Linked DNA regions of Homo sapiens: region 1 is linked to region 2. Evidence: fine-mapped expression QTL. A gene starts in region 2. The other region holds a variant in brackets. All regions are shown on one strand. Distances are from middle to middle. Region 1 overlaps ZNF484 (zinc finger protein 484). Region 2 holds the start of ZNF484 (zinc finger protein 484).

Region 1 (16,542 bases), 24 kb after region 2:
AATAATTTTGGCTTTATTCAGGACATTCTGAATATCATGTTATGAGATTCTGTTTTCTCTTCAAATCCTCTATTTTAGCAGTTGTCAACACATTTAGGTTTAGAGTGCATGTCTTGGTCTATTTTTATGGGCTGTATTTCAAATTCAACTTAGTTTTGAAAGTCTTTGCAGTTCTATTTTGGTCTCCCTCATTTTTGTGCTACCCAGAAGCTAATTTGAAACCTGGACAGTATCCCACACCCTAGTTCAGCCCTGAAAGCTTTTTCTATGTTGATTCTGATTCATTTTATATCTGGGCTGCTCGTAGGTGTGCCCAGGTCATCATACATGTATTTAAAGAACCCCTTTTTATAACTTTCTCCATAATCCATCCTCCACTCTCTATTGGAAGAAGGTAGCTACTTCTTCTTTGCTGTCATTCACTTAATTTGGGGTAGGGTTAGCCAATACAGTCTATATAATGCCTGCTGGAGAGGCAAGAGGGGTGCTACCTCTCTTTGAGCTAATGCAGTTGGGATGATTGAGAGAGCTCCACCCCACCATCTTTGGAGTCACATTGTTTGTGAAGAAGGCAAAGGATGCATCTTTTGTAGTTTTCACCTCAAGTATACTGGTTTTTTTTTGTTTGTTTTGTTTTGTTGTTTTTTTTTTTTTTTTGAGATGGAGTCTCGCTCTGTCGCCCAGGCTGGAGTGCACTGGTGTGATCTCAGCTCACTGCAAGCTCCGCCTCCCGGGTTCACGCCATTCTCCTGCCTCAGCCTCTCAAGTAGCTGGGACTACAGGCGCCCGCCACCATGCCCGGCTAATTTTTTGTATTTTTTTAGTAGAGATGGGGTTTCACCATGTTAGCCAGGATGGTCTCGATCTCCTGACCTCGTGATCCACCTGCCTCGGCCTCCCAAAGTGCTGGGATTACAGGCGTGAGCCACCGCGCCTGGCCTCAAGTATATTGTTGTGCAGTAAAGGATTAACTTTGCCCAAAGAGAGGTTTGGCCTTTGCACTCAGCTCCTGGGAGGTAACCTCTAAATCTTTGGAATGTCCTGCAGGCCTTGCTTAGGCCATGCAAGATAGTATATAATGACAGTGTGATTTATGGTGGGAGCTTTGGGCCACACTGAATATTCTATGCCAACATGTGGTTTATAGTGGGGTACCTTTGGCCATGCAATATCAGCTCTGGAGGGGCTGGAGACTAAGATCAGCCACAGTGGGAGTCATTCATGTCCACATGATCAAGTCTCAGTAAAAACTCTGGACATCAAGGCTCAAGTGAACTTCCCCAGTTGGCAATACTCCATGCGTATTATCATCACACATCATTGCTGGGAGAAGTAAGTGCTGTCCATATGACTCCACTGGGAGAAAACCACTGGAAGCTCACACCTGGAACTCTCATTGACACTGCACTAAGCACATCTTCCCTTGGCTGATTTTGATCTGTATCCTTTCATTGTAAAGCCACTATATAACACCATAGCCATGAGTATTATGGCTTTTCTAATTTCTGTGAGTTCTTCTGTGAATTGTGGAACCTGAGGGTGGTCCTGGGGACCCCTGACTTGGAATTGGTGTCAGAAGTACAGGTGATCCTGGGAAATCCCTCTGCTTGCAGTAGGTGTCAGAAGTGAGGGTGTTCTTGGGTACTTCTGAACTTTGTAGGTATGTGTAGTCAAAAGGTCCCATCCTGCATTGCTGCCCTATTTCAAATTATTTGGCTGGAAAATGTATGCTTTGGGGAGGCCTTTTTTGTCTGTGCTCATTGGTTCTTCCAGGTTGCAAGCTCCTCTAGTACTCATTTTGCAATATGTAGGAGCTCCCTCTCTCCCTCTAAGTTCCCTCTAGGGAACTAACTCACTACTGTGTTGTTTTTTAAGTCCTTAGGTTCTACTTTCTTTTCTCCACCAGTGAGTCTTCTGACAGATGCTTTATGTATTTTTCTAGATTTTTAGGTAATTAGCAGGAGGAATTGGGTGGAATGCACTCTTTTTTTTGTTTTGTTTTTTAGAACCAGAAGTCTCAATCCTTGCTTTTAACTTGGATGTTTAATGCATTTACACTTAATGTAATTACTGATATACTTGAATTTATATATACCACCTTACTATTAGTTTTTATTTTATTTTATTTTATTTTTGAGATGGAGTCTTGCTCTGTTGCCCAGGCTGGTGTGCAGTGGTGCAGTCTTGGCTCACTGCAACCTCCACCTCCTGGGTTCACACCATTCTCCTGCCTCAGCCTCCTGAGTAGCTGGGACTACAGGTGCCCACCACCACACCCAGCTAATTTTTTTATATTTTTAGTAGAGACCGGGTTTCACCGTGTTAGCCAGGATGGTCTCGATCTCCTGACCTCATGATCCGCCTGCCTCAGCCTCCCAAAGTGCTGGGATTACAGGTGTGAGCCACCACGCCCGGCCTAGTTTTTATTTGAACTACCTATTTTTTCATTCCTTTCTTGACTTTTTATATTACATAATTTTTTTACTCTTTAATTTTTTCCTTTGTTTACTTGTTATAATTCTTTTACTGTTTGTTACCCCAGATATTAAAACATTCATCTTGAACTTACTATTTTATCTCCTTAATAATGCTAGGATACTTTATAAAACACTTTAATTCTATTTACTGCCTCCCATTTTTGCATTATTATTTCCATTATTTTAAATTTTGCATACATTTTAAACCTCCCAGAATAGTACTGTTACTGTTTTGCATAGTCAATACTTGCAGTTTTGTAAAGAGGTATTTGAAGAGCTTCTTGAATCCTAAGGGTTGATGACATTCATAGCCATTACTTCTTCAAATATTGCTTTTTCCCTGCACTCTCCTCTTTAACTTCTCAGACTCTGATAGGTTATACCTTTTTTACTATGTCACACATATTCCTAATGCTCCTATGTTTTTTTCTTTAAAAAAAAAATCTCTGCTTCAGTTTGGATATTTTCTATTTACTTGTCTTCCATTTCAGAAATTCTGTATTTTGCTGTTAAACCTGCATAAGGACTTCTTAATTTTAGATTTTAGATTTTTCAATTTTTGAACTTTCATTTGATTCTTTATTATAAGAACCAACTCTCTAAAGATAGTCCTCTTTTCATCTAACTCCAATTCTCTGTGTGACTGTTTCTATTGAATTTTTTCCTTCTCTGATTTTGGATATGTGGTCCTATCTTTTTGGATGTGTAGGATTTTTTTGTTTGTTTTAAACACTGTGTATAATAAGTTGTAGGCAGGGCTCATACCTGGGAGGCTGAGGGGGACAGATCACTTGAGCTCAGGAGTCCCAGACCAGCCTGGGCAACATGGCAAAACCCATCTCTACAAAAGATAGACAAATTAGCTGGGCATGGTAGCATGTGCCTGTAGTCCCAGCTACTTGTGGGGCTGAGACAGGAGGATTGCTTGAGCCCAGGTCGAGGCTGCAGTGAGTCGTGTTTGTGCCACTGCACTCCAGCCTGGATGACAGAGCAAGACCCTGTCTCAGAAGAAAAGAAAAAAAAAATCTTTCTCCACAGAGGATTCATCTTTCCTTATGTTAGCAAATGGAGGGAAGGGAGAACACGTACATCCAGTCAGGCACTGTTGATGTTGAAATAAGGCCGGGTTGAAGCTCTGCTAAGACTCACTTTACCTCTGGATCACCCTGGCTCCTGAGAATTTTCAGCTGAGAGCCCTTTTGTCCTCTAAAGACCCTCTTCCTGATAGATGCCCAACTATTTTCTTAACAGATACTAGACTTTTGCTCTGTTCTTCAAAGGCTGTTTGCTTACATTTTTAGTCTACTGCCCTATATACCCTAGAATTCAGCAAATATCCTGAGGGGAAAATGGCCATGTGTTTGAGTTATGTTGGTTTCTCTGTCACCCAGCTGCAGCCTTCTACTGCATTCTCCAGTAGACAGGACAAAATGAGAATCCAGGACAAAAGCTGGATTCTCAGCTTTTGTCCACAGCCAGAATTGGTAAATGCTCCCACTGTCAGAGTGACTGAATAAGTCAGCTTCAATCTTTAATATTCTCTCCTCTCCAGTCTTAGCCCCTATATTTCTTGCTACCTCAGCAGCTTTCCAGTGCTTTGAAACAGATGATTTCAAGTATTGCGTCTGGCATTTACAGTTCATTGTTGAAGGAAGCACTGGACTGCCAAGCTACTGCATCTCATCTGGAAATGGCAGTGCTGAAAAAGAGCCCTCTCCTTCATACACCACACAGTTTACCATTTAAAGTGTACCATATTAGGCTGGGTGTCGTGGCTCATGCCTGTAATCCCAGCACTTTGGGAGGCTGAGGCGGGCGGATCACGAGGTCAGGAGATCGAGACCATCCTGGCTAACACGGTGAAACCCCGTCTCTACTAAAAAAATTTTTAAAAATTAGCTGGGCGTGGTGGCGGGCGCCTGTAGTCCCAGCTACTCAGGAGGCTGAGGCAGGAGAATGGCGTGAACCCAGGAGGCAGAGCTTGCGGTGAGTGGAGATCGAGCCACTGCACTCCAGCCTGGGCGACTGAGCGAGACTCTGTCTCAAAAAAAAAGTGTACCATGTATTGATTTTTAGTGTATTCACTCAGTTGTACAGCCATCATTATAATCAATTTTAGACATTTTCTTTATCATCCAGATGGGTGTGAGGTAATATCTTGTAGTTTTAATTTGCATTTCCCTAGTGATTAATGACGTTGAGCATCTTTACATGTGCTTGTTAAATATTTGTATATCTTCCTTGCAGAAATGTCTATTTAAGCTTTTTACCCATTTTTAAAATTATTTTGTTCGTTGTCGTTGAATTGTAGAAGTTCTTTATAGTATATTGTATCACATTAAAAATAAGGTCCTATCTTGTTTCCATTCTGTAATCTCGATCCTTCACATTGAAAGGTTTTTTTTTTTGAATTCAAATATATTCTTTAAAAAATTATTTTAAAGTTTGTTTTTTTTTTTTAACAGGAATCAGTGTCATTCAAGGACGTAACTGTAGACTTCAGTAGGGATGAGTGGCAACAATTAGACCTTGCTCAGAAAAGCCTGTACAGAGAAGTGATGCTGGAAAACTATTTCAACTTGATCTCAGTGGGTAAGCACGGCTCTGCTGGGTATAGAGTAGGCTGCACCTAATTGAGTATATTTTTCTTCTCAGTAGAATTGCTGAAGTCTGTGTTTTCTGAGGTATGTGGGACTTCTAAAGACTGCAGGACATCTAAAGTGTGTAATGGTTTTGTCCTTATTTTGTCCCATGTTCTTAATAATCTCTTTCGGGTAGTGTGAATATTCCTCTGTTCCCAGTGAACTTTTTTGGGAAAAAAATGGAATGCTTCATTGTATGGCCTCTGAAATCAAGTCCTCTATCATCCCCTGTTAACAGGATGTCAAGTTCCCAAACCAGAAGTCATCTTCAGCTTGGAACAAGAAGAGCCATGTATGTTGGATGGTGAGATCCCCAGTCAGAGCCGTCCAGGTGAGAAGGGAACCAAGAGCATGGTAGACAGTATGACTCAGCTGCATTTGTACTGGGAGAAGCTGTGCCCAACTTTGCCCAACTTTGATGTGTCATTAATAATGACTTTTAGAACTGCTTGGAAGAGCAGTTATTAGACAAGGACCCTTGGATAGCTAAATGCTAACCCCACTTAAGATCCCTTCTCATATCAATGCCTTCTTCTTTGCTTGGCTTTTTAGGAGGGAATATGCTACAATTACTGGTTCTTTGGATCATGTCACACTCTACTTTCTAGGGTCCTGTTTTCTTGCTTTTTTCTCTCTTTCCCTAGAAAAGTTTTATTCTTTCTACCTCCATCAAGGTCTTAGATCATTTCCTTATGCATTCAAATACTCATAGATCTACCTTCTGAAAACATTACTATGCATTACAACTTCAGCTCCTGCTGTTTCTTCTCATTTTGTCTCTTTCCCCTTAGTGCCTCACAATTGTCATCTAGAGATGGGCTTGTCTGAAGTCCCCCCATGCCTCTTCTCTGATTGTTGACTTTGAGAGTACCATTGACATTTTCTTCCTACTTGGCTAGTGCAACGCAACACTGACTTGATCTTTCTAATTTATTTATTTTCATATCTTACACAAAGTTTTTTATCTAGTGTACAGGTATATCCTGTACAGAAGATTGAGTTAATAATTATAGCCTTAGTTTTTAGTCAATATCATCATCAATGTGTTTAAGGCTCCCCTCTTATTTATTCTTTTTAATCCTCAGTCTCCATACTCATTTTTATCCTTCCAAGAGGCAACTGTTCTAATATATTTGACATGTTATGCCATTTATCCTTGAATTTCTGGGATATTTATAAAATCTGAGTTGTTGGCATTGTTAATTTGTAGAAATGGTACTGTATTATATATCCTACTCAAGTTTTTTTTTCTCAAATTGGTCCATGTTGCAGTGCATTATTCTAATTTCTACATATCATTCTGTAGTGCACATATATACCCCATTTTACTTGTCCAGTTTTTCAGCTACTACAAACAGTACTGCAATACATTTCTTCATGAATTATTCTTACTGGAAATGATAATTTATTTATTTATTTTTTTCTGAGATGGAGTTTCGCTCTGTCCCCCAGGCTGGAGTGCAGTGGCATGATCTCAGCTCACTGCAAGCTCCACCTCCCAGGTTCACGCCATTCTCCTGCCTCAGCCTCCCCGGTAGCTGGGACTACAGGCGCCCGCCACTGCACCCAGCTAATTTTTTGTATGTTTAGTAGAGACGGGGTTTCACCATGTTAGCCAGGATGGTCTCGATCTCCTGACCTCGTGATCCACCCGCCTTGGACTCCCAAAGTGCTGAGATTATAGGCGGGAGCCACCACGCCCAGCCGGAAATGAGAATTTCTTAAGGAAGAGGAGTGGGATTGCTTTATCATTGGGCATACTAATATTGAATATGATGAGGTATAAGCACATTATTTTCCAGATTGGCTGTGTCACTCTACGGTCCCTGGAACTTTGTACAAGGGTATTAGTTCCCCACATCCCTACCCATACCTAGTATTATCCAAATTTTTAATATTTTGGCTAATCTGATGGGTTTTAATTTCTAATTATTATTTAATTTGTATTTCCCTAATAAAATACTTTGAACATCTCATTCTGTATCCTTCATTTTTGATGTTCAACTGCTGATGTTTTCTAAGCCTCATCTCTCTCTCTTTTTTTCCTGGACAAACTGAGAAAAAAGCCCATGAGTTCCCTCCATTGTTGCTGGGAAATTCCAACTACATAAGGGAATAGTTAGCCCAGCCCCACCCGCCCCTGCCATAAACTCCCAAGACAGTCCTTTCCTTGCTCACTCTAGCCCCATCTGGACCTGCTTGGAGCTGTCCCCAGAAAGCCTCATTATGTGA[G/A]TAACAAATCTTTTTACACCCTCTTATTGTGTGTGTCTCATCGTCACTCTTGACATCTGAACCAAGTTTGGGGTGGGGTCCATTTCTCCTTGCAGGTCATTTACAGCTGGGGCAATAAGCAGGATGTCAAGGCAATGACCACCCCCACAGGGGTCTTTCTCCTCTTCCCAACTGGTTATACTGCCTGCTGGCAAGTATGCACTTTGCCTCTGTCCTATACATAACTAACCTACATTAGAAGTTATCATGGACATTTAGAGGCAGGTGTAAGGGCTTTGGGCCCTCCTTAAAGTTGCCCAGGTCCATGTGTCTCAGCCCAGCATAATCTGTGTCTTAGATTATGTGTCTCAGCTGCAGCATAAGCTCTGAGTGATAATTGGCTCATGGGAACAACTTTTACTCTGTGACTGTTATTTGTGTGTCTCAGTCAGGCATTGGCCCTATTGTATACAGCACTCAGGGGAAAGACCAATACTGTTTGCATTTAAGGGTCTGGCTGTTTGTGTGAAGGAAGACAAGATACAATGTAGCATGTAAAAGCAGGTGGCTTGCCTTTCAAAATGTTGTCATCTTCTCTTGGAGTTTTTTTACTTTTCCCTCTAATCCATCTTCTCAGATAATTCATTCTGCTTTTCTACTTATTTTTCTCATTTACAAAAGCCTCTTTCTTACCTCCCAGTCATATCACCTACAACCATGTCTGTGTTTTCTCATGCCTAGATTATTCTAATCCTATTTGTATGTGATAATCCCATTCTTTCTTTTTCACTATTTCATCTCAGATGCTGCTGATAGATTTCACTACTTAAAACATTGTGTGCTGTGTTTATCCTGTCATAGCTACATGGAAGAAAACTAAAGTTACTACTTAATATCTAACATGTGACAGATTCTCCTCTCAGTAGGTTTGTAAGCTAGAGAAAGAATATGGCCTCATATTTGCAATTCACATTTGTCCCTGTTTTCTATAACCATTTCTATCCTATTTTAAGATTTTCTTTAATTCTCCCTTTTCATCGAGCCCTTTGATTATTATGTTATCTATCTGCGTATTCAAATAATACACATATTTTGGCTGGGCACAGTGGCTCACGCCTGTAATCCCACCACTTTGGGAGGCTGAGGTGGGTGGATTACCTGAGGTCAGGAGTTTGAGACTAGCCTGGCCAACATGGCGAAACCCCATCTCTACTAAAAGTATGAAAATTAGCCAGGCGAGGTGGCAGGGGCCTGTAATCCCAGCTACTCAGGAGGCTGAGGCAGGAGAATCACTTGATCCCAGGAGGTGGAGGTTGCAGTGAGCTGAGACCGCGCCACTGTACTCCAGCCTGGGTGACAAGAACGACACTCCGTCTCAAAAAAAAAAAAAAAAAAAAAAAAGGCTGGGCGTGGTGGCTCACGCCTGTAATCCCAGCACTTTAGGCTGAGGCAGGTGGATCACAAGGTCAATTAGCCAGGCATAGTGGCAGGCGCCTGTAGTCCCAGCTACTTGGGAGGCTGAGGCAGGAGAATGGTGTGAACCCAGGAGGCGGAGCTTGCAGTGAGCCGAGATCGTGCCACTGCACTCCAGCCTGGGCAACAAAGTGAGACTCTATCTCAGAAAACAAAAACAAAAACAAAAACAAACAAAAAACCAAATAATACACATATTTTGTGCTCAGCTTTCACTTACTCCTTGAATTTGACCTATTGCAGCATACAACCTCCAGAAATTCAGAGAAACCTACATTAAATTACATGATAACTGAGGCTTTTACTCTTGTACATTAAAATGCAAAGTTTCTGTAGAAAATAGTGAAATTAAATTCCTGAATTTGTGTTATAAGCAGAGGAGGTCGTTTTGCTCTATTTCAGAAAGATTTTAAAATTTTTCTTTTAGGAGCAATTCAAAGGGCTAGAAAAACTAATTGGAAAGAGGATAACTGCATGAAATCTTGAAAATTTCAGTCTTTGTGCATTACACTTTTGTTAACGTGCACATCTATGCCAATTCAAATATAAATATGAGTGGTTCAGAGTACCTTTTTGTTGTTTGTTTTTAAGTTAAAAGAGAGCCTCTCTAGAGTTGTGGTGAAATTTGAAATTAGCTTTTAAAGCAGAGAACCCCAAATGATTAATGAAGAACAATGAATTTTTGATAGAAACAAAAGATCAGAAAAAGGAAGCTTAAATGGAGAAAATGAAAAGACTGTATGTTTGGGTTCATTGATAAAATAGACTGCAGTGACTAATGGAAAGATGTGTGTTAGTCCCTTTTCGATGGCCATAACACCGGGCAACTCTGTTTCCATGGCCGTTCAGGGACAAAGTTTCTAGAAAGTCATTGTACCACCATCCCCTAGGGCAAGGGCTGACAAATTTTTTGTAAAGGCACAAAAGTAAATAGGCTTTGTGGACCATATGGCTACTGTCACAACTGCTTATTTCTGCAGTTGTAGCCCCAAAGCAGCTATAGACAATACATCAATGTATGGGTGTGGCTGTGTTCCAATAAAAACTTTATGGACACTGAAATTTGAATTTCATATAATTTTCATATGTCGTGAAGTAGTATTCTTCTTTTAATTTTTTGACCATTTAAAAATGTAAAATACATTGTTAGCTTTTGGATAGAGGCCTGGATTTGGCCCAAGGGCTTCAGTTTTCTGACCCCTGCCCTAGGGCATTGCCAGCTTCATAGAACTGGGTGCTGCCAAGTTGGAATATACTGGTGGGAAAAGAAGAGGTTTGTAGGAGACAAACCCACTTTCTTAAGACATTGGCCTTATCACTTCCACTGATGAGTGAAAAAGAGTTACTCAGTGCCACCTAGTGACAAATGAAGCTGAACAAACCTAGTGTTGTGAAGCAGCCATGTGCTTGGCTACAAGCTTAATATTGTGAAGGAAGGGCACAGGTTTGATGAACAACTTTCAGTCTTCTCTTCTGATGTCTAGTTCTTTCCTGTTATGTCTTCTACCAGATGCATTTATCACATCAGTACCCCAAACCAGGGATGAAGAATTGAACCATAGGCCAGACACGGTGGCTCACACCTGTAATCCCAGCACTTTGGGAGGCTGAGGCAGGCAGATCACTTGAGGTCAGGAGTTTGAGACCAGCCTGGCCAACATGGTGAAACCCCATCTCTACTAAAAATACAAAAATTTGTATTTTTACAAATACATGTATGGCGGCACATGTCTGTAGTCCCACCTGCTCATGTGGCTAAGGCAGGAGAATTGCTTGAACCCGGGAGGCGGAGGTTGCAGTGAGCCGAGATCGCGCCATTGCACTCCAGCCACTCCAGCCTGGGTGATAGAGTGAGGCTCCATCTCAAAAGAAAATAGACCAATTGTTACATAGAGTTGATTCAAGGAAAACACAGATAAATGAGAGAGGCTATATAAATATAACAAATGTATATAAATTTTTCTGTTTGGCCAAGTTAGGATGACTAAGATATCGTAATTTTACTGTAAACATAAATACATTGGTATTTAGGGCACAGTGGATCATAGGGAGAAGAGAAAACAGGAAGATTGTGAGGATTTACAGATTAAGGAAAAGAATCTAGACTCAGAAATACTTCTTTTCACAGAGTTTATCACTTTGTTCTTCTGACACCTCACTCACCATGTAGTTCTACTACATTTGCACTGAATTGCAATCTCTTCTTCCCCAATTACTAAACATTTGATTTGGGCAAATTTAACTAAACTCTTCTGTGGCTCAGTTTCCTCATCTGTAAACTAGAAACAATAATAATACCAACAGCAAAGGGTTACAATAAAGTGCTTTTTGTTTTTGTTTTTAAGAGACAGGGTCTTGGCTGGGCTTGCTGGCTTACGCCTGTAATCCCAACATTTTGGGAGGCCGAGGCGGACAGATACTTGAAGTCAGGAGTTTGAGACCAGCCTGGCCAACATGGTGAATCCCCGTCTCTACTAAAAATACAAAAATTAGCCAGTTGTGGTGGCATATGCCTGTAGTTCCAGCCACTCATGAGGCTGAGGCACAAGAATCCCTTGAACTCAGGAGGTGGAGGTTGCAGTGAGCTCTGATCATGCCATTACACTCTAGCCTGAGCAACAGAGTGAGACCCTGTCTTAAAAAAGAAAAAAAAAAAAGAGAGAGAGAGAGACAGAGTCTCACTCTGTCACCCAGGCTGGAGTGTAATGGTGCGATCAGAGCTCACTGCAGCTTCAAACACCTGGGCTCAAGTGATCCTCCTGCTTCAGCCTCCTAAGTAGCTGGGACTATAGGCATGTGCCACTAGGCCCAGCTAATTGTTTTTTCATTTTTCTGTAGAGATGGGGGTCTCACTATGTTTCCCAGGCTGGTCTCAAACTCCTGGGCTCAAGCAATCCTCTCATCTCAGCCTCCCACAGTGCTGGGATTACAGGCATGAACCACCACACCGGGCCGTGATAAAGTTTAAGTGAATTAATATAGAACTTAGAACAGCACATCTAAATGATATTGTTTATCATGTTATAAATGTTAGTATTAATATTATTACTCTACATCATTGTATTACATATTATATATAAATGAGTTATTATACCTATATATTTATGTATATTTAAAATACTTATGTACATTTGTTATATTTATATAGTCTCTCTCATATCTCTGTGTCTGCCTTGAATCAACTCTTTTTTTTTTGGAGATAGAGTTTCGCTCTTGTTGCCCAGGCTGGAGTGCAATGGCAAGATCTCGGCTCACCGCAACCTCTGCCTCCTGGGTTCAAGTGATTCTCCTGCCTCAGCCTCCTGAGTAGCTAGGATTACAGGCATGCACCACCATGTCCGGCTAATTTTGTATTTTTAGTAGAGATGAGGTTTCTCCATGTTGGCCAGGCTGGTCTTCAACTCCTGACCTCAGGTGATCCGCCTGCCTCAGCCTCCCAAAGTGCTGGGCTTACAGGCGTGAGCCACCACACCCGGCCTGAATCAAAGGTCTATTGTATTTTTATTTATTTATTTATTTATTTATTTATTTATTTATTTATTTATTTTGGAGACAGAGTCTTGCTCTGTCACCCAGACTAGAGTGCAATGGCGCAATTTCAGCTCACTGCAACCTCTGCCTTCAAGCCATCAAGCCATTCTCTTGCCTCAGCCACTTGAGTAGCTGGAATTACAGGCATGTACCACCACGCCTGGCTAATTTTTAGTAGAGACAATATTTTGAGTGTTTTTTAGCAGAGACAGAGTTTTGCTATGCTGGCCAGGCTGGTCTCAAACTCCTGGCCTCAAGTGATCTGCCCACCTCAGCCTCCCAAAGTGCTAGGATTACAGGCATGAGCCACCGCACCTGGCCTTATTTTCTGTTAATTGTTCTTTTTGTCAGTCTTATCTTTTCTTTCTTTTTTAGATGGGGACATTGGTTTTGGACCTTTACAACAGAGGATGTCTGAAGAAGTTTCTTTCCAGTCTGAGATTAATATTAATCTCTTCACAAGAGATGACCCATATTCCATTTTAGAAGAATTGTGGAAAGACGATGAACACACAAGAAAATGTGGAGAAAACCAGAACAAACCTTTAAGTCGTGTTGTCTTCATTAACAAGAAAACACTAGCTAATGACAGCATCTTTGAATATAAGGACATTGGGGAAATAGTTCATGTAAACACACACCTGGTTTCCTCAAGAAAAAGACCCCATAACTGTAACTCGTGTGGAAAGAATTTGGAGCCTATCATAACCTTATATAATAGAAACAATGCAACAGAAAATTCTGATAAGACTATTGGAGATGGTGATATTTTCACTCATTTGAATTCTCATACAGAAGTGACTGCTTGTGAATGTAACCAATGTGGGAAACCTCTGCATCATAAGCAAGCTCTCATTCAACAACAGAAAATTCATACTAGAGAGAGCCTCTATTTGTTTTCTGACTACGTAAATGTTTTCTCCCCGAAGTCACATGCCTTTGCACATGAGAGTATTTGTGCTGAAGAAAAGCAGCATGAATGCCATGAATGTGAGGCAGTCTTCACTCAGAAGTCCCAGCTTGATGGCAGTCAGAGGGTTTATGCAGGAATATGCACTGAATATGAGAAGGATTTTTCCCTCAAGTCAAACCGTCAGAAAACTCCTTATGAGGGGAATTACTATAAATGCAGTGACTATGGAAGAGCCTTTATCCAGAAGTCAGATCTGTTCAGATGCCAGAGAATTCATTCTGGAGAAAAACCTTATGAGTACAGTGAATGTGAGAAAAACCTCCCTCAGAATTCAAACCTTAATATACATAAAAAAATTCATACTGGAGGGAAACACTTTGAATGTACTGAATGTGGAAAAGCTTTCACAAGGAAATCAACACTAAGTATGCATCAGAAAATCCATACAGGAGAAAAACCTTATGTATGTACTGAATGTGGGAAGGCCTTTATCCGGAAGTCACATTTTATCACACATGAAAGAATTCATACTGGAGAAAAACCCTATGAATGCAGTGACTGTGGGAAATCCTTTATTAAAAAATCACAACTCCATGTGCATCAGCGAATTCACACAGGAGAGAATCCCTTTATATGTTCAGAATGTGGGAAGGTCTTCACTCACAAGACAAATCTCATTATACACCAGAAAATTCATACAGGAGAAAGACCCTATATATGTACTGTGTGTGGTAAGGCCTTTACTGACAGGTCAAATCTCATTAAGCACCAAAAAATTCATACTGGAGAGAAACCTTATAAATGCAGCGACTGTGGAAAATCATTCACCTGGAAGTCTCGGCTCAGGATACATCAGAAGTGTCATACTGGAGAGAGACATTATGAATGCAGTGAATGTGGGAAAGCATTCATTCAGAAGTCAACATTAAGTATGCACCAGAGAATTCATAGAGGGGAAAAACCATATGTTTGCACTGAATGTGGTAAGGCCTTCTTCCACAAATCCCATTTTATTACACATGAGAGAATTCATACTGGAGAGAAACCCTATGAATGCAGTATTTGTGGGAAATCCTTCACTAAGAAATCACAGCTCCACGTACATCAGCAGATTCACACAGGAGAGAAACCCTATAGGTGTGCTGAATGTGGAAAGGCTTTTACTGACAGATCAAATCTCTTTACACACCAGAAAATTCACACTGGAGAGAAACCTTATAAATGTAGTGACTGTGGGAAAGCCTTCACTAGGAAGTCAGGTCTCCATATACATCAGCAATCCCATACTGGAGAAAGGCATTATGAGTGCAGTGAATGTGGGAAAGCCTTTGCAAGAAAATCAACACTAATTATGCATCAGAGAATTCATACAGGAGAGAAACCCTATATTTGTAATGAATGTGGGAAATCCTTCATCCAGAAGTCACACTTAAATAGACACAGGAGAATTCATACTGGAGAGAAACCCTATGAATGCAGTGACTGTGGCAAGTCTTTCATTAAGAAATCACAACTCCATGAGCATCATCGAATTCACACAGGAGAGAAACCATATATATGTGCTGAGTGTGGAAAGGCCTTCACCATCAGATCAAATCTTATTAAACACCAGAAAATTCATACTAAACAGAAACCCTATAAGTGCAGTGACTTGGGGAAAGCCTTAAACTGGAAGCCACAACTCAGTATGCCTCAGAAATCTGACAATGGGGAAGTAGAGTGCTCCATGCCACAATTATGGTGTGGGGACTCAGAAGGTGACCAAGGCCAACTTTCTTCTATCTAGTTAGAATTATGAACATCTGGATCATATAGCTGATGTGTAGTTACACATATGGGGAGACACTTTTGAGAGTGTTTAAGCAATGTATAGTGGCCATCTTTGGTTACTTGATATTGGTGTTGTCAAGCTCCTGCAAATAATAGTAAATGTGCAAGGAGATGATTGGCAGTCTTTCTTGTTTCACTTTTTGGGCAAACAGTTTTATAAATTCATGGCTGTTGAGTTTTTCATGTTCTGGGTACCACAACTATTCAATATTGACCCGCAAAAATTCATAATGAGTAGTATGATGAGATAATTTTACATTGTCTAAGCAGCCTAAGGACACTGAGATCAAGGCAAAGAGAGGGCAATTTAGGTCTATAATGAAAGTGAATCAGCAGTTTTTGTGAAAACACTAAAGACAGAAAGAAAGGACTCTACTTTTTTTAAAATTTTCTTTGGGAAGTCACCATTATTTATTGTTATATCTGTTGGCGTATGCTGGGGCAGCAGTTAGCCAAGAGGTCTGAAATTGCTCTTTGCCTATTTCTCAAAAGTCTATATTATTACCTTAGAACTGGCCCTACGATCATGGAACTTAGATACAGGGACCCAGGTCTAGATAGCAGCACTTTAGATCCTCAGCTTTCACCACAGAAACCTGCACTTTTTTGATGTTGTTGTTACCAACTCCTGTTTGAAAAATAGGACAAATTAAGAAAATGGATATCAAATCCTAAAATTTTTTCCCACTAATTTTGTTAGTACATTCTCTACATGTTCGTTACTTGCTAGATTACCATGAGACACAAGCATCTTGAATTTTAGTTTGTGTCCTTAGAAGATAAAATGTAGTTGAACATTTGGAAGACTTCTCCTTTTATCTCCTCACAATCTCTACAAACTAATCTTAATTAATTTTGTTTTTCAAATTCTCTGTATTTGAATAGACTTTTTTGTCTTTTCTTCTATCAAATACTGAAAGAACTGTGTTGTAATTTTACAAATAATTGTGAATTTGTCTCCTTTAGAGCTACTAATTTTTGCTTTATATATTTTGTCTTTGATTTTACATACAATTTAGAATTGTTGTAATCTTCCTGGTTAATTGACACATTATCATTATTAGATGTTTCTTTTTATCTCTAGTAATTTTTTGCCTTAAATGTACTATGTCAGATACTAATATACATATGGATTAAAAGCTAATGTAAATTAGTACTAACATTTCTGGACAAGGGGAGAAGTTATAACATTATAATTTCATTTATTTGTCTCTTATATGGTATTAATTTTGTATATTTGGATTCTGTACATGGTGAACATAGCCAATCATTATTTGAGTCAATATCCATTTAAATTAACCCACATATTTATCATTTTAATTACTTTTTTATTCCTTCCTGTCCTTTAAGTTTTCCTCTAGAATTATTTTGCTTCTTACTGAGGAACACCCTTTAGTATTTCTTTTACTGTGAGTTTGGTGGTGACAAATTGTTCTTCATTTGTTGGCAGTGTTTTATTTTGCCT
Region 2 (16,542 bases):
AAAGTGCAGGTGGCTCGGGTGAGGGATGTTCTAGGAGAAGGGAAGGTTCTGGTGGCTGGGAGGCACTTAGGGAGGAGACTGAGGTGGTCATTGGGCCTGGTGGTGGGGTGGAGGCCAGATCCTGAGGATGCTTGGTTCAAGGATCCGGGGAAGCTAACAGGGAGAGAATGGGAGCAGCATCTTCTATAGGCTCATGAGAGGACCGGGAGGCTCCATCAGGTGCTCTTTTGCCCACCTCACCTGGGGAGTCTGGACCGGAGAGCTGACCAAAGTCACCTTTTTCAAGGTGTGGCCCTAGGAGGCTGCAGGAGACAGGAGGCACAAGCTGCAGCCAGGAGCAGGTGGATTCGGAGGTCAGAGTGGGCGCTCGGGCCACAGCCCCTCCACCACCCCACACCCTGACTGCCCAATTCTCCTGCTACCCCTTGCCCCAGGCCTTTACTCTCATCCTCTGTCCCCCTGGTCTCCCCATCCCAGGTCAGCTCCAGGCTGCCTATGGCCCTGAGGTCGCATCCCAGCCCTGGTAGGAAGGATGCAGGGAAGGGGAAGTGCCTCACCTCTGCAGTTGTGAAAGCAGGTCCCAAGTCTCCTCCAGGCCTCTCAGGCACTCTCTACAAGCTGGAAATCAGACCGGGTTAGGGCAGTGAGGGAGGGGCCTGGGATCTCACAGGAGGCTGAGTGTATGTTTCTTCAGGGAAGACCATGGGGAATTAGACCCTGGAACCCACCCATCTGTGTCCAAAGCCACATGGCCCCGATGGTAATAGCAAGGCATGGAGGACAGGGCTTTGTCATTCACAAAGGGCTTCCACAAACAGGCCCCCCACCCCCATAGTCCTCACAACTGCCCTGTGTGGAGAAAGGACTGGGGTGGTCTCAAAGAGGAATCAGCCTTAGCAGAGTTGAACAGCTGTTCCCAGGGAGCGGGAGGCCCCCTCAACCCCCTCCGCATCCAGGCAGGCATTGGTCTCCCCAGAACACACACACTGCCCCCTGCTGGGTAACGCTCAGTCCCTGGCCCACCATGGCTTCATTCCGGCATGGAATCTGAGAAGGACCCGGGGTTCTGATTTCCTTCCTAGGAGCCCCCACCTCAGGCTTCTTCAACTGACTTCTTCAGAGTCAGTTCCCTCAGGGACAGACGAGATCAAATTAACTCTAGTGTGCCCTGGCAGAGCCTTACCTCTGAAGACTGTGGTTTTTCATCCTGCCTCTGGGCATCCCCCTCTGCCCTACTGGACACTGGGAGACAAGATGACGCGAGGAGACAAGATGACACTGGGAGACAAGAAATGGCGAGGAGCTAGGACCGGCTCTCCCTCTCCACCCCCAGCCCAGCCGCAGCACTCTGCACTCATGAACCGCATGGCTCTCTCTGTCTTGCTCAGGGAGCTCTGTGTGCTTCCTCCCATTCATGTTTAAATGGATGATAAACTGCTTTTCTTCTTAGAAAAACAGGAAGAGGGGGCCAGGCACGGTGGCTCATGCCTATAATCCGAGCACTTTGTGAGGCCGAGGTGGGTGGATCACCTGAGGTCAGGAGTTTGAGACCAGCCTGGCCATGGTGGAACCCTGTCTCTACTAAAAATACAAAAACTAGCCAGGTGTGGTGGCGGGCACCTGTAATCCCCAGCTACTCAGGACGCTAAGACAGGAGAATAGCTTGAACTCTGGAAGCAAAGGTTGCAGTGAGCAGATATCGCTCCATTTCACTGCAGCCTGCGCAACAGAGTGAGACTCCATCTCAAAAAATAAAATAAAATAAAATAAATAAAAATAACACACACACACACACAGACACACACAGAGGGATTTTCAATATGAGGTCCACCATGGACGCCATCAGTCCCTGTTCCTCTGCTCCTGGAACACCCAGGCTCAGGCCCACAGGCACCACTGAGCTGTCAGGTAGGATTCTGCTTCCCAGGAGACAAGAGGAGATGCCAGGCCCCGGTGGGAGGCCCTTGGGGGCCCAGCACAGGCCCCATATCACCCCACACAGAGGAGGTTGGGCCCCAAGCCACCTGCCCCAGGAAGGGGCTGATGAGCCAGGGCTTAGGGCCTGGCCTCGGACAGAGACCTCCCCTGTCTCATGACCAGAGACCTCCCCCGTCTCATGACCATTCCTGGCCGCTGAGCCCACGGGTTTGATTTTGCCTTCACGCCTCCTGCGCTCCCCAACAGATGGACTGAGGGCTTGGGATGGAAATCCCTGTACACAATCTACCCCTACCAACCCCTGGCTGCCCTGCCTCTCCCTGGAAGCATGATGTTCCGGTCTCTCCTGAGACTTCCCATCGCAGAAGTCCCTCCACTGGATTTGGAAAAGTGGAACTAATAATAAAAAGGAAGGAGAGAATCAAGCTCTGTGGGTCTGGACTGAGGGCTCCTTACCTTTCTCTTCCCAGGCGATGGTGAGGGTGGATCGTCACAATGGAGGTAAGATAAGTAGGGGAGTAATAGGAAGAAGAACCCCAGGGCAAACACCAAGGTGAGGAAGATATCCAACACCCATGGTGTGGAGCTGGGGGTGTTTAGCGATGAGGGACTAAGTAATTTTAGAGGAAAGGGAAGATTCTCCATGTGAATAGGTGCATTGCTTTCAAGCAACTGAGCTCTGGGCATCCCCGTGGAGGCTAGGGACTGGGGCCCAGGCCTGCATCACAGAGCTGGGCCTTCACATCACAAAGGGCTCCTTTGTTGGGGAGGGGCAGTAGGAGGGGGAGACCGAAGCACAGCCCCTCCCCACCCCCCAAGCCGGGGATCCCTCCACCTTCCCACCTTCCAGATCTCTCCTTCCCGCTAAGTTTTGTCAGTGATAGAACTCAGCCAATTTTCTATTCTTTCTCCCTGGAACACATATTACCTGGTTCCTTTTATCTGTTGGAGTTGGTGGCTTGAGGTTACCTATTTTATGGCCCTTGAAAATCTGAAGTTGACTCTGAAATTTTGGCTATGTACCAGGGATTTTTATTCTCAGAATCTCATTTGTCCTCAACTCCAGCTTTCCCACACAATGTTTTTGTCTTATATCAATCCAGGGACAAAATGTAAAGTTCTTTTACTCTTATTTAGTTTTGCAAATTTTGAATAGTAAGTTTTAAAAAAATTATTTCTATCTCACTTTCCTTTTTTTTTTTTTTTTTTTTTTTTTTTGAGGAGTCTCTCTCTGTCGCCCAGGCTGGAGTGCAGTGGCCTGATCTCGGCTCACTGCAAGCTCCACATCCCGGGTTCAAGCCATTCTCCTGTCTCAGCCTTCTGAGTAGCTGGGACTACAGGCGTCCGCCGCCACCACGCCTGACTAATTTCTTTTTGTATTTTTAGTAGAGACGGGGTTTCCCCGTGTTAGCCAGGATGGTCTTGATCTCCTGACCTCGTGATCCGCCCGCCTCTGCCTCCCAAAGTGCTGGGATTACAGGCGTGAGCCACTGCGCCCAGCCTTCTATCTCACTTTCAATCAAAGGGACCTACCCACATACAATTAAGATTTTTTTAAATTCTATTTATGTACTTATGTGTTTATTTTAAGTTCAGGGGTACATGTGCAGGACATGCAGTTTTCCTTTTTTTTTTTTGAGACAGAGTCTCACTCTGTCGCCCAGGCTGGAGTGCAGTGGCGCGCTCTTGGCTCACTGCAAGCTCTGCCTCCTGGGTTCACGCCATTCTCCTGCCTCAGCCTCCGGAGTAGCTGGGACTACAGGCATCTGCCACCGTGCCTGGCTAATTTTTTGTATTTTTAGTAGAAACGGGGTTTCACCGTGTTAGCCAGGATGGTCTGGATCTCCTGACCTCGTGATCCGCCCGCCTTGGCCTCCTAAAGTGCTGAGATTACAGGCATGAGCCACCGCATGGGGCCTGCTGTCTTATTTTAACGTCTCTCTGGGCTTGATAATTTAAAAGGACTGACATTCCTCTGATAAAAGTTATTTTATTTTCTCATTTTCCATCAATATATCCTGTTCAGTGAAATATCTGTTCATGCCTTTAGCCCATTTTCTAATTGGATTGTTTTTCCTTGTTGTTGTTGTTGACTTTTGAAAACTTTAAACAATATTCTAGATATGACCTCTTTGTCAGATATGGTTTATCAGGTGTGGTTTGCAGTTTTCTCCCAGTTTTTACCTTGTCTTTTTATTAACAGGCTCTTATGCAGGGCAAAAGTTTTAAATTTTGATAACATCCAATTAATAAATTCTTATAATTAATTGTGCTTTTCTGGTGTCATGTCTAATAATTATTCATCAAGTCCTAGGACCTGAAGAATTTATCATTAAATTTCATATTTTTACATTGAGATCTATGATCTTTTTTTTTCTTTTTTTGAGAGGGAGTCTCTCTCTGTCACCCAGGCTGGAGTGCAGTGGCACCATCTCAGCTCACTGCAAGCTCCACCTCCTGGGCTCACGCCATTCTCCTCTCTCAGCCTCCCCAGTAGCTGGGACTACAGGCACCTGCCACCACGCCCAGTTAATTTTTTTGTATTTTTAGTAGAGACGGGGTTTCACCTTGTTAGCCAGGATGGTCTCGATCTCCTGACCTCGTGATCCACCCGCCTTGGCCTCCCAAAGTGCTGGGATTACAGGCGTGAGCCACCACGCCTGGCTGATCCTTTTTTTTTTAAATAAAGACATGAGGTTAGATTGAGGTTCATTGTTTTGTCTATGGTATCTAACTGCTCCAGAACCACTGTACCATTGAATTGATATTGCATCTTTTTCAAAAGTCAGTTGGTTGTACTTGTATGGAAATATTTCTGAGTTCTCAATTCTGTTTTATTGAACTGTCTATACCCCTGCCAATACCACACTGTCTTGATTTCTGTAGCTACGTAAAAAGTTAAAAAATTGGGTAGAATAATTCCTCCCACTTTATTCTTCTATTTCAGACTTGTTTTGTTGAGCTGTATCATAGAAAAAACTATTCGTGACACCTGTTAAAAAATAGTAAGACAAACTTTATTCAGAGGGATTATTGCAATAGATATAGAGATTACTGCAATAGGGTCTTGCAGTAATCTCCAGTTTCCATATATTCAGGTTTCCCTCTGAATAGAAATTTTATAGCCACAGAGCAGGGTGGAGGGGTGGTAGTGTACGGAAAATTACTAATAGGAGGGAATCTGGCTAAACTGACCTCACAGAATTCTTGCTGAAGCCATGCCAGAGTGATCAGATATCACCTGGGGATAGTAGACAATAAGAAAACCAATTAGATATCAATGGTGATCAGATACGAAGATGGAGGATTCTGACTAAATTGCCTTGCTAGGATTCTTACTAATATTGGGCAATTCACAGACAACACAAAAGCCCAAAAGCCAGGGTTTAGTTGACAAGAGAGTTCAAAGGAGCATGGCTAGAGTCTGGTTATGGAGAGAATTTTTGTCAGCTGACTGGGTCTTCCAGAACTGTGTAGAATAAAAATGATGAGCACAGACATATTTTCCTTCTTCCCAAACTGAACAGGAAAGCATTCAGTCTTTTTCATCTTTTAGTTTGACATTAGCTGTAGATTTTTTTCTAACTTAAAAGTTAGAAAGTTTACCTCTGTTCCTAATTCCTGAAAGTTTTTTTTTCATTATAAATGGGTGTTGAATTTTCTCAAATTCTTTTCCTGCATTGATATAATCATGTAATATGCTTATCTTTAGCTTGCTAATGTGGGGGGTTACACAAATTGATTTTTGAATACCAAAACAGCTTTTTATTCCTGGAATAAATATCACTTGTTCATGGTTTGTAGTTATTTTTATATATTGTTGAATTATTTTTGCTATTATTTGGTTGAGAATTTTTCCATCTATATTCATGAAGAATACTGATTTCTTCTTCTTCTGTCTTTAGCTCTGATATCAGAGTAACACTGGCCTCATGAGTTGGAATATCTTTCTATTGTCTTCTTTCTATTCTTTTTTTATTCTGGAAGAGACTGGATATAATTCGTGTTAACCTTTAAATGTTTGTTAGAATTCTCTGATCTAGCTATCCAGGCCTTAAGATTTCTTTTTCAGATATTTCAAATTATGACTTCAGTTCTAGGGCTATTCAACATAACTATTTCATGTAAGAGAGAATTTGTGCTTTTTCAAGAATTAGTGCATTTCATCTATGTTGTGAAATTTATGTTTGTAGAGTTGTTTGTAGTATTCTCTTTATTCTTTTGATTTCGTCATGGTCTACAGTGGTATCTCCTGTTTCATTCTGGATATTGATATTTTGTGTCTCCTCTACAGATTTGTCAATTTTATTAACATTTACAGAACCAGCTTTTGTTTAATCGGTTTTTCTCTATTTTTCTTTTTACATTTTATTGAGTCATCTTCTTATCCTTATTATTTCCTTTCTTTCACTTGCCTTCGGTTTATTTTGCTCTTCTTTTTCTAGTATGTGAGGGAGCTTGGTTATTGCTTTGAAATTTTTTTCTTTTCTAATGTAAGCCCTTAGTGGTATATACATTTTTCTCTCACCACTGATTTAGCCACATCCCACAAATTTTGATATGTTGTGTTTCACTGTCATTCATTTCAATGTATTTTAAAAATTCATTCACTTTCACTTTCATTCATTTCAATGTATTTTAAAAATTTGAGACTTTCTCTCTGAACAATGGATTATTTAGCATGTGTTTTCACGTGTTTGGAGATTTTCCTTTTATCTTCCTGTTATTGATTTCTAGTTTAATTCTATTGTGTTCAGAGAACAAACTGTATGATTTCAGTTGTTTCAAATTTGCTGAGATTTGTTTTATGACCCAGGTTACTTCATATCTTGCTAAATGTCCCATCGACACGAATAAAATGTGTATTCGGCTGCGTTTGCGGTGTTACATAAATGCTGATTAGTTCCTGTTGATTAACAGTGTTGTTGTGTCCACAGAAGCATTGGAGAAAGACTGTAACCTGAGGTGATAGGCTTTGATTGTGTCCTGGCTTAGTATGATGGGACACACCTCTGCTTGCTTCCTTTCCTTTGGACAACCCTCAGCCTCTCAGTCTCTACATGACCTCAACATGGCCGCCCACAGGCCAGAGTGTCTACATGGGCGCCGCCATACTGGCGCCCAGCCTAAGCCGCTGAAACGGGAGCGTGTTTGGCAAAGCGCCATGTTGATTACTGGCAACCTTCAGGCCATGAAGACTGCTGAGCATGCGCAAACCCAGGCAGCGCTGTAAGAAGTACCTCTAGGCCTGGGAGGCATTGAGAAAAAGGAAGTGGGTCCTGTTCTGGTTCTTGCGACTATAGTCACCTCCCGAGGCAAATGACCACTGTCCTGAGAGGACGTGGGTGAGGGGCAGGTGAGTAGAGGGATGGCAGCATCTGTGGACTGAGCAAGAAGAATCTCTGATGTCTGTCCTGAGCCTTCCGGTCAGTGATGGGGTCGGTCAGTGGATGGAATAGTGGAAGTCGGAGCGATCTCTGATGGTGGATCTGAGGGAGGAGTGAGGGGGCACTGAGGGGTCTCTGGTGGTGGATCTGCAGGCGGAGTGAGGACGGACTGGGGGTCTCTGTCTGGTGGTGGATCTGAGGGCGGAGTGAGGGCGGACTGTGGGGTTGTGGGGGAGGATGACTATGGGAACTAAGGAGGGATCTGAGGAGTGTGAATGATGCACATCTTAATTAGTTTCCTCTCTTTTATACGTACCGATCTGTTTATATTTTCGTTTCTGTTTCATTATAATGATATATTTTGCTAAAGATTTAAAGAATATATTACATAGAATTGCATGTTTCCATTTCCATTTTGTTCTCTTTCATATCCAGACTAGTAGCTCCTTTATCATTACGGTTATTATATTTATATATCATTCATTCTTTCTCTATTTAAAAAGAATCAAGCGTCTGAAAGGTTTATCTGTTTCATTGGACATTTTGAAATGTCCAATAAAATACTCCCTACTCTTTTAATATTAATTTTTTTCTCTTTTTCTTTTTAGGTACTTTCTCTTTTTCCCACTTTTTGATGTAATTTGTTGTTCTTTCCCTTATTTTCTTAAGTTTTATGCGGGATACATTTAGGGTTGTAAAGTTTCTTTAAGTACATCTTTATGAAATGCATAAGTTCATTTTGATGTTTCCCTTTGAATCTTAGTTATTTAGGAGAGTTTATTCATTCCCAAATTATTAAAGTATGTTTTAGCTGTTTTTTATTTTATTGTATTGTCAGAAAATGCAGACTATCAAGTCTCAACTTTTAACAATTTATCAAGATTTTCCTTGAAGCCAAGTTACTCAATGAACTTTGTTCAACAGATATAAAAGAAAAATTATATTTTGTTGTATGGACCAAAATTCTCTTTAATTAAGTCTTGCTTGTTGGTATTTTTCAAATCTTTATCTTTCCTAATTTTGATCTACTTGTTTCATATTCTGGAGGAGATACAATAAAAATCACTTTTAATAGTTCATTTTGCAGTTATATGTGCTTTTTTGCTAATTTTATTTGTGCATCTGAGGGATGGGCATACATACACTTAATGGTTAGTGCATTTTTTATCCTTTTTCATGTATTAAGTGGTATTATTATAGGATCCCTTTTTTCAACCAAAAAGAAAAAAGAAAAACACTTTTTAACATCGAATTCCAAGAAAAACACTTTTTAACATCGAATTCCACGTTGATACTCACATTGCCACCCTTGTTTTTACTTTCATTGCATTTGGATGATGTCTTTGCCCAGAGCTTTATTTTGTATCCTATTTGTCTCTGTGTCAGATTACCTATTTGTTTACAATAGATACTTTTGCTTTTTTCAAATCCAATTTATAGTCTCTGTTGATAGAATTTTACATCTCAGTTTAGTGTGATAATGATTTATCTGATTTTATGCCTTCCATTTGATGTTTACTATTTAGCTCTTTTTATTTTCTGCCTTTTCTTTACATAATATTTTCATTGGATTGATGAAATTTCTGCTCATTGTTTCCATTCTGCACCCCATTTTTTCTGTTTTTTTCCTGAGATTATTAGGAATGTTTTATCATAGGGTATTATTAATTTTCTCTTTAGTGGCCTCTTTATCACATTGTCACATTGTCCTTTTTTATAATTATATATCTTTTGCAAGAATTATTGCTAAACAATATTTTCCTATTCAAGATTTATTGTGTGGTTCATTTTACATTTATTTGGACTTCTTCCAGTGTTTCTCTCAAAGATAGAGATACTCTGCAAGTGCTTTTATTTCTGAAAATGTCTCTCTGGCCCTGACAGAGAAGTGGTCTTTTAGATGCTATTTCCGACATCATTTAGCTTTCAGTACTGCAGATGAAGAGTTTTCTTATTTCCTTCATTTTTCCTCTGTAAATAGTCTGGTTTTTCACAATTAGATTTAGAAGTGTTTTCTATTTATAAATTTATTCTATACATGCAAGAATTTCCCCTGATTTGTTCATTGATTGAGTTCCTGTTTGTGTATGTGGAGGAGCTTATAGCCTAGTTGTGTCAGTGGTGGGAGATGTGTATGTGTGCTAAGGCCCCAGTGCAGAAACAGGTGTGCCTAGGATTGGGACTCTTGGGATGGCTGATGGAGATGCATGATCGGTAGTCATACAGGCATAGAGGCCAGTCATGGGGATGTGGGATTGATTGGTAGAGAGCCAGGACCATTAGGGTAGAGGAATTGAAGACTCTGTGATCAGGTATTGTAGGATGAGTGATGCAGGCCTGGCTCAGGGGCAGCAAGGCATGGAAATCAGTGAATCTGAGGTTTCAGTAATGGCTTCTGGGAGTAGTCTCTGGGCACCAATTGACACTTAGAGCAGATTGAAGAGTGGTAGTGAGGAGTTAGGTACCAGGGTTGATGATAACTTGAAGGGCCTGTGAAATCAGATAGTATAATAACGTAATAGAACAGTATATCCTTTGGATATTTTATAAAGTATTTAAGCAATCCACAATTATTGAATATCTAAACATTTCTAATCTTTCTTTTTTATTAACCATGTTATGGTAAAACTTTTGCACTTAAATCTTTGTACAATATGGGATGGGATGATATTTTAATGTGGTAGTTCCAGAAATAAATTTTTGAGTAAGGTGCAAGGGCACTAAATGATGTATGTGTCCATGTGTGACATTGGCACAGTTCCTTCTCTCATGGGTACCTCTACCCATCTGTTTTCTCAGATTTCTGCCCCTTTGTCCGAAGAGCCAAAAATGACCAAGTCCCTGGTGAGTTCTTATTTGTTCATCTGTTTATTTGTTGCTTTCTTTTACTTTTAGTGGATTTTAGGAGACATCTAACAATCCCTATAGTAAGATGACAAGACTAAATAAATAAAAACTAAGATCAGATAAAATGAAGAAGAGACTGTCAGCCCCAAGTCAAGTTTAGAATATATGGTCTTACACAGTCATGAACTTTGAACTGTTAAATTGTCTCTGATCTTCCTGAAAGACATAGCAATAATGGAAATTGGATACATGGTTTATATTAATAAAATTAACAAGTAATTTATTTCATCTGTAGTAAAGATGTCATGGTTCTTGATGTTTGAGGAATTTTTTGATAGATCTTCAGATGGTTAATGACAGAGCAGTCTTCAACAACAACCCTACTGAAAGTGCACTAACAGGCCAGGCGCGGTGGCTCACACCTGTAGTCCCAGCACTTTGGGAGGTCGAGGCAGGTGGATCACATGAGATCAGGAGTTCCAGACCAACCTGGCCAACAAGGTGAAACCCCGTCTGCACTAAAAATACAAAAATTAGCCAGGTGTGGTGGCGGGCGCCTGTAATCCCAGCTACCCAGGAGGCTGAGGCAGGAGAATTGCTTTAACCCAGGAGGCAGAGGTTGCAGTAAGCCGAGATTGCGCCTTTGCACTCCAGCCTGGGCAACAAGAGCGAAACTCTGTCTCAAAAAAAAAAAAAAAAAAGAAAGAAAGAAAGAACGTGCACTAACAGTTTTTCTGTTGCTGTCTTATAGAACAGTGCTTCTGACACTTTACTTGCATTTGAATTCAGATTCTGATTTAGTAGCTATGGGATGGGATATGAGAATTTTTATTTCTCACAAATTTCCACAGAACATCAATGCTCCTTGTCCAAGGACCACCTTCTGAAACAACCTTGAGGTTTTATCGTGAATGGGAGTTGAATTTTGTTAAATGCTATTTCTGTACCAATTGACATGATCATGTGATTTTACTTCTTGAGTCTGTTGGTATGGTAGATTACATTGATTGATTTTTTAATATTGAACCAGCGTTGCATCCATGGAATAAACTCCACTTGGTTGTGGTATATACTTTTTAAATTATTTGTATTTGCTAATATTTTGTTAAGGGTTTTTGTATCATATTTATGAAGGATATCGCTTTTTTTTTTCTTTCTGTCTCTCTTTCTGTTTTTTCTTTTGGTACTATTTCTGGTTTAGGTATCACGATAACCCTGACCTCATAAAATAAGTTGGAATGTGTTCCTTTGTATTGATTATTCTGCCAGAGATTGTGTATAGTTTGTGTTTTCTTTTTCTATACTTTGTCCAGTTTTTGTGTCAGGGAAATCATAGCCTCACACAATAAACTGGGAAGTATGCCCTTCTCTTCTGTTTTCTGGAAAAAACTGTGTAGAATTTATGTTAATTATGTTAATTCTTCAAATATTTGGTAGAATTCTCCAGAGAAACTGTCTGGGCCTAGAGATTTCTTTTTTGGAAGTTTTAAGATTACAAACTCAGTTTCTTTAAGTGTTACAGGGCTATTCACATTGTCTATTTAATATTGAGAGGGTTGTGGTAGTTTGTGTGTTTTTCAGGAACTGGTCCCTTTCATCTAAGTTGTCAAATTTATGTGTGCAGAGCTGTTAGTAGTTGTCTTAGTCAGCTCAGGCTGCCATAACAAAGTACCATAGACTGGGTGGAATAAACAACAAAAATTTATTTTCTCACAGTTCTGGGAGGCTGGAACTGAGAGATCAGGGTGCAAGTATGGTCAGGTTCTGATGAGGGTTCTCTTCTTGGCTTGTAGACGAAAACCAGATTCTCACTATGTGCTCACAGGCCATTCCCTAGTGACCGCCTGCCTGCCTGCCTGCCTGCCTATGGAGAGAGAATCTCTCTCTGTAAGGCCACCTGTCTTATCAGATTAGGACCCCTACCTTGTTTAACCGTAATTACCTCTTAAAAGCCCTATCTCCAAATACAGTTACATTAGGGGTTACAGCCTAAACATACGAATTTTTGGAGGACTGAGAATGTCTTGATTTCCACATTCTCCTGAAGGATATTTTTGCCTGATCCAAAATTCTAAGTTGATAGTTCTTTTGTTTTTTTTTTTAGCACTTGAAAAATGTGCTACTTCCTTCTGGCCTCCAAAGTTTCTGATGAGATATTAGTTAAAACTGCATGTTAATTTTCTATTGCTGCTGAAATAAATTCAAAAATTTAGTTGCTTAAAAATAACTTTTTTTTTTTTACAGTTCTATATTTTAGAAGGCCAACATGGGTCTCACTGAACTAAAACCAAGGTGTCAAGAGGGCAGTATTCCTTTCTACAGGCTGTAAGAAAGAATCTGTTTCTATTTTCTATGACTTTTCTAGCTTCTAGTGGGTGCCCACATTTCACAATTTGTAGCCCTTTCCTCCAACTTCAAAGCCATCAACATTGTATCTCTCTGACCACTCTTTTGTAGTCTCATCTTTCTCTGACTCTCTTTTATTGCCTCTCCTTTAACTTTTTTTTTTTTTTTTTTTTTTGAGGCAGAGATTTGCTCTTGTTGCCCAGGCTGGAGTGCAATGGCGCGATCTCGGCTCACCGCAACCTGAAAGAATCTGTTTCTATTTTCTGACTTTTCTAGCTTCTAGTGGGTGCTCACATTTCAGTTTGTGGCCCTTTCCTCCAACTTCAAAGCCATCAACATTGTATCTCTCTGACCACTCTTTTGTAGTCGCATCTTTCTCTGACTCTCTTTTATTGCCTCTGCTTTAACTTTTTTTTTTTTTTTTTTTTTTTTTTGAGGCAGAGATTTGCTCTTGTTGCCCAGGCTGTAGTGCAATGGCGCGATCTTGGCTCACTGCAACCTCCGCCTTCCGGGTTCCAGCGATTCTCCTGCCTCACCTTTCCGAGTAGCTGGTATTACAGGCATGTGCCACCACGCCCTGCTAATTTTGTATGTTTTAGTAGAGACGGGGTTTCTCCATGTTGGTCAGGCTGGTCTCAAACTCCCAACCTCAGGCGATCCGCCCGCATTGGCCCTCCCAAAGTATTGGGATTACAGGCATGAGCCACCGCGCCTGGCCCTCCTGCTTTAACTTTTAAGCAAATTTGTGATTATATTCAGCCCACCCAGATAATCTAAGATAATTAATCTTCCTATTTTAAGGACAGCCGATTTAGCCACCTAGATTTGATCTGAAACCTGAATTCCCTTTTGCCATGCAACCTAACATATTCACAATTTCTGGGAATTAGGATGTGAACATCTTTGGGGAGCCATGGTTCTTAGTATCTCACATTGTCATTCAAATTGTTTTTCTCCTGTGGGTAATGTGTAGTTTCTCTCTGAATGCTTTCAGCATTCTTTCTTTGTCTGTATTTTTCACAAGTTTCACTATAATTCTTCCTTAGTGTGAATTTCTTTGGTTTTATCCTTTTTGAGATTTGCCCAGCTTCTATCTGTAAGTGTATATCTTTCGGGAAGTTTCAGAAATTTTCATTCATTATTTCTTCAAATACTTGTTCAGCCCCCATCCCTTTCTCTTCTTTTTCTCTTTCTGGAACTCCAATGACACAAATGTTAGATTTTTTGTTATTGTCCCACATGTCTCTGAGGTTCTGTTCCTTTTTTTCTCAGTCTGTTTTCTCTCCATTCTTTAGATTAGATCATTTCTACTTTATTTTCAGGTACTCAGAATATTTCTTCTGTTGCCTCCATTCTTTTGAGCCCATCTATTGAGTTTTTAATATTGGTTATTTTTTAATTCTAAAATTTTCATTTGGTTTTTTCATCTCTTCTCTATTTCTTTGTTGAAGTTTTTTTGTTTCAAGTGTGTTCATATGCTTGTTAAAACATTTTTATGAGGACTACTTTAAAATCCTTATGAAATAATTCTGATAACATACATCACTTCAGTTTTAGTATCGGTTGATTGGTTGTTTCCTTATTCAAGTTGAGATTTTCCTGGTTCTTGGTTTTACAAATGATTTTGTAATGTATTGTGGAAACCTTGGGCATTATGAGACTCTAGATCTTATTTGAGTCCTCTTTTTTAGCAGGCGTCCTCTGGGCCAGTGTGGGAATTGGGGGGCCTTGCTGTACTACTGCCAGGTGGATGTGAATTTGCAGGTTCCCTACTTGAACTCTGTTGACAGTCTGTGGGGAGAGAGACACCTCATTACTGCTAGTTGGGGTTGGCAGTTCAGGCTCCCCAGTAGACCTCTGGTGACATCACCTTGTCTGAAAGGAGAGGGTACCTTGTTTCTGCTCTTCATGCTGTCTTCTCTGATATTGTTAGGTTGGATAGGGCCTCATTACCTCTCAGAGTGATGAAGGTCTTGGGTTTTCATTTGACATCCTCTCACACCACACCTGTCGTGATGGGAAGAGTGTCGCATTACTGCTAGGTAGGAATGGAAGTCCAGCCCTGAGGTGGCTCCCACTGGCATGGCAAGAAAGCTACCCATTACCACTGTGCAGAGATGAAAGTCCCAGCTCCCCAGTTGGCTTTTCTCATACTACCCTATTGCAGTGGAGGGGCATCCCCAGGCAGCCAGGCAAATACAGGAGTCTAGGCTACCCACTGAGTCTTTGCTGATGAGAGATGAATCAAGCCCACAGTTTTTTGTTGTTTTATAATCTGTGGTATTTGGTTGGAGTAGGTTTTGTCTAAAAGTTTTTTATTTTTCTCTGTTGCCCCTTTCCTGGTCTTTTAGCTAGAGAAAACACTTTTTTCCAGGCCTTTTTGTATGCACTTGTTGATGTTTCTGGATTGTAGGTTTTTCGAACACCTGGTCAGAGCTATCTATATGAGGCCGAAAGACACAGAGAGCTTATTACTGTTTACTTCCCTGGTTCCTGAGGCCCCTAGCCAGGGTGCCTATTTTTCTTTACCTTTCAGAGTCTGTATGTTGGTTTGATGGATAATGTCTATGGTTTGTAGATGAACTTAACAGGATGAATAGAGACAAGTGCATCTACTGTATCTTTCCAGGAGTGGAATCCAGTTTATTGAGTTTGAACAGAGGACTTCATATATTAAGCATAGTCTTATACGTTTTGGTCAGTTATAACTGCCTCTTTGTCCTTTGCATTTGAACTTTTAAAAATAAGTATTTCATTTTGAATGTCATGAAAGTTTTACCTATATTTACTTAGTCAAATTGTTCTTTGTGGTTTCTTAGAATAAAACAGTTGTCATCTGCTCTATTCCTCTTCAAATTTCAGCTTCTCAAAGGTAATCACTTTGAACTCAGTTTAGTTATCTTTTGCTGTTTACTTTCATATGTCTAAATAACATGTTTGTATTGGTATTTCTAGGCTTTCAGTTTTAAGCAGTTATCTACAGACAACACAATGGAAAGAAGGAATTAGCTCTCTTTCAGACACTCAGGCCCTTGACACTCACGTACACATTTCTCATGTACCCTCCATCTAATATGGGTATTTTGTTTATTTATTTATTTATTTAGTAGAGATGGGGTTTCACCATGTTGCCCAGGCTGATCTTTGAACTCCTGGGCTCAAGCGATCTGCCCACCTTAGCCTCCCAAAGTGCTGGAATTATAGGCGTGAGCCACTGCGCCCAGCCTAATATGGGTATATCATAATTTGGGGTAAATCAATAGGCTGCATTTTATTATGATGATTATTTTAACAATATTCACAAGTGAGCCATTTACTTTTTATGCAGTGCTTTTTGTTTTACCTGAAATTATAAGTGTCTGGCTTAATCATTTGTTTTGTTTTCCATACATACATGTACAATATATATTATACATATCAGTAATTCATCGCTAGTCTTCCCAGGTATATAAATACCTTCTCAATATATTAAAATATACTAAATAATAACAGTAATATAATATAAACATTAATATAGTGCTTACTATATACCAGGCACTATAAGCATTCTCTATTAACTAATTCAGTCACAACCCCTACGAGTTATTGCTATGGTTTGGATATTTATCCTCTCCAAATCTCATGCTGAAATTTGATCCCCCAACCCAGGCGCGGTGGCTTGTGTGTAATCCCAGCTATTCAGGAAGCCAAGGTAGGAGGATCACTTGAGGCCAGGAATTTGAGATCAGCCTAGGTAATATGGCGAGACCCTGTTTCTTACAAAAATAAATAAATAAAAAGAAATTTTAAAAATAAAAGAGAAGTTTGATCCCAGTGTAGGAGGTGGTAGGGCATAATGGGAAGTGTTTGGGTCATGGGGACAGATCCCTCATGAATAGATTAATGCCCTCTCTGGGGAGGTGGTGAGTTCTCAATCTTATGAGTTCCGTGAGAGTTGGTTGTTGAGAAGAGCTTGCTACCTCCCATTCGCTCTCTCTTTCTTCCTCTTTTGCCATATGATCTCTGCACACACCGGCTTCTCTTC

The links.
Region 1: its variant is fine-mapped to the expression of ZNF484 in whole blood (TOPMed, PIP above 0.99).

What each region holds. Positions count from the first base shown.
Region 1 is chr9:92,844,719-92,861,260 of GRCh38, reverse strand. It overlaps ZNF484 (zinc finger protein 484), which reads left to right. Exons shown (of 5, transcript NM_031486.4): 3 at 4,943-5,069; 4 at 5,358-5,450; 5 at 12,710-16,542. The coding sequence ends at 15,033. Among named protein-coding and RNA genes, the nearest start is that of ZNF484, 25 kb to the left of the region's middle. The variant G/A (reference allele first, on the strand shown) is at 7,352.
Region 2 is chr9:92,868,642-92,885,183 of GRCh38, reverse strand. It overlaps ZNF484 (zinc finger protein 484), which reads left to right and starts at 7,146. Exons shown (of 5, transcript NM_031486.4): 1 at 7,146-7,294; 2 at 10,125-10,169. The coding sequence starts at 10,155. It also overlaps the pseudogene SPATA31B2P. RefSeq lists enhancers at 1,533-2,049, 2,050-2,567, 6,903-7,342, 6,856-7,391.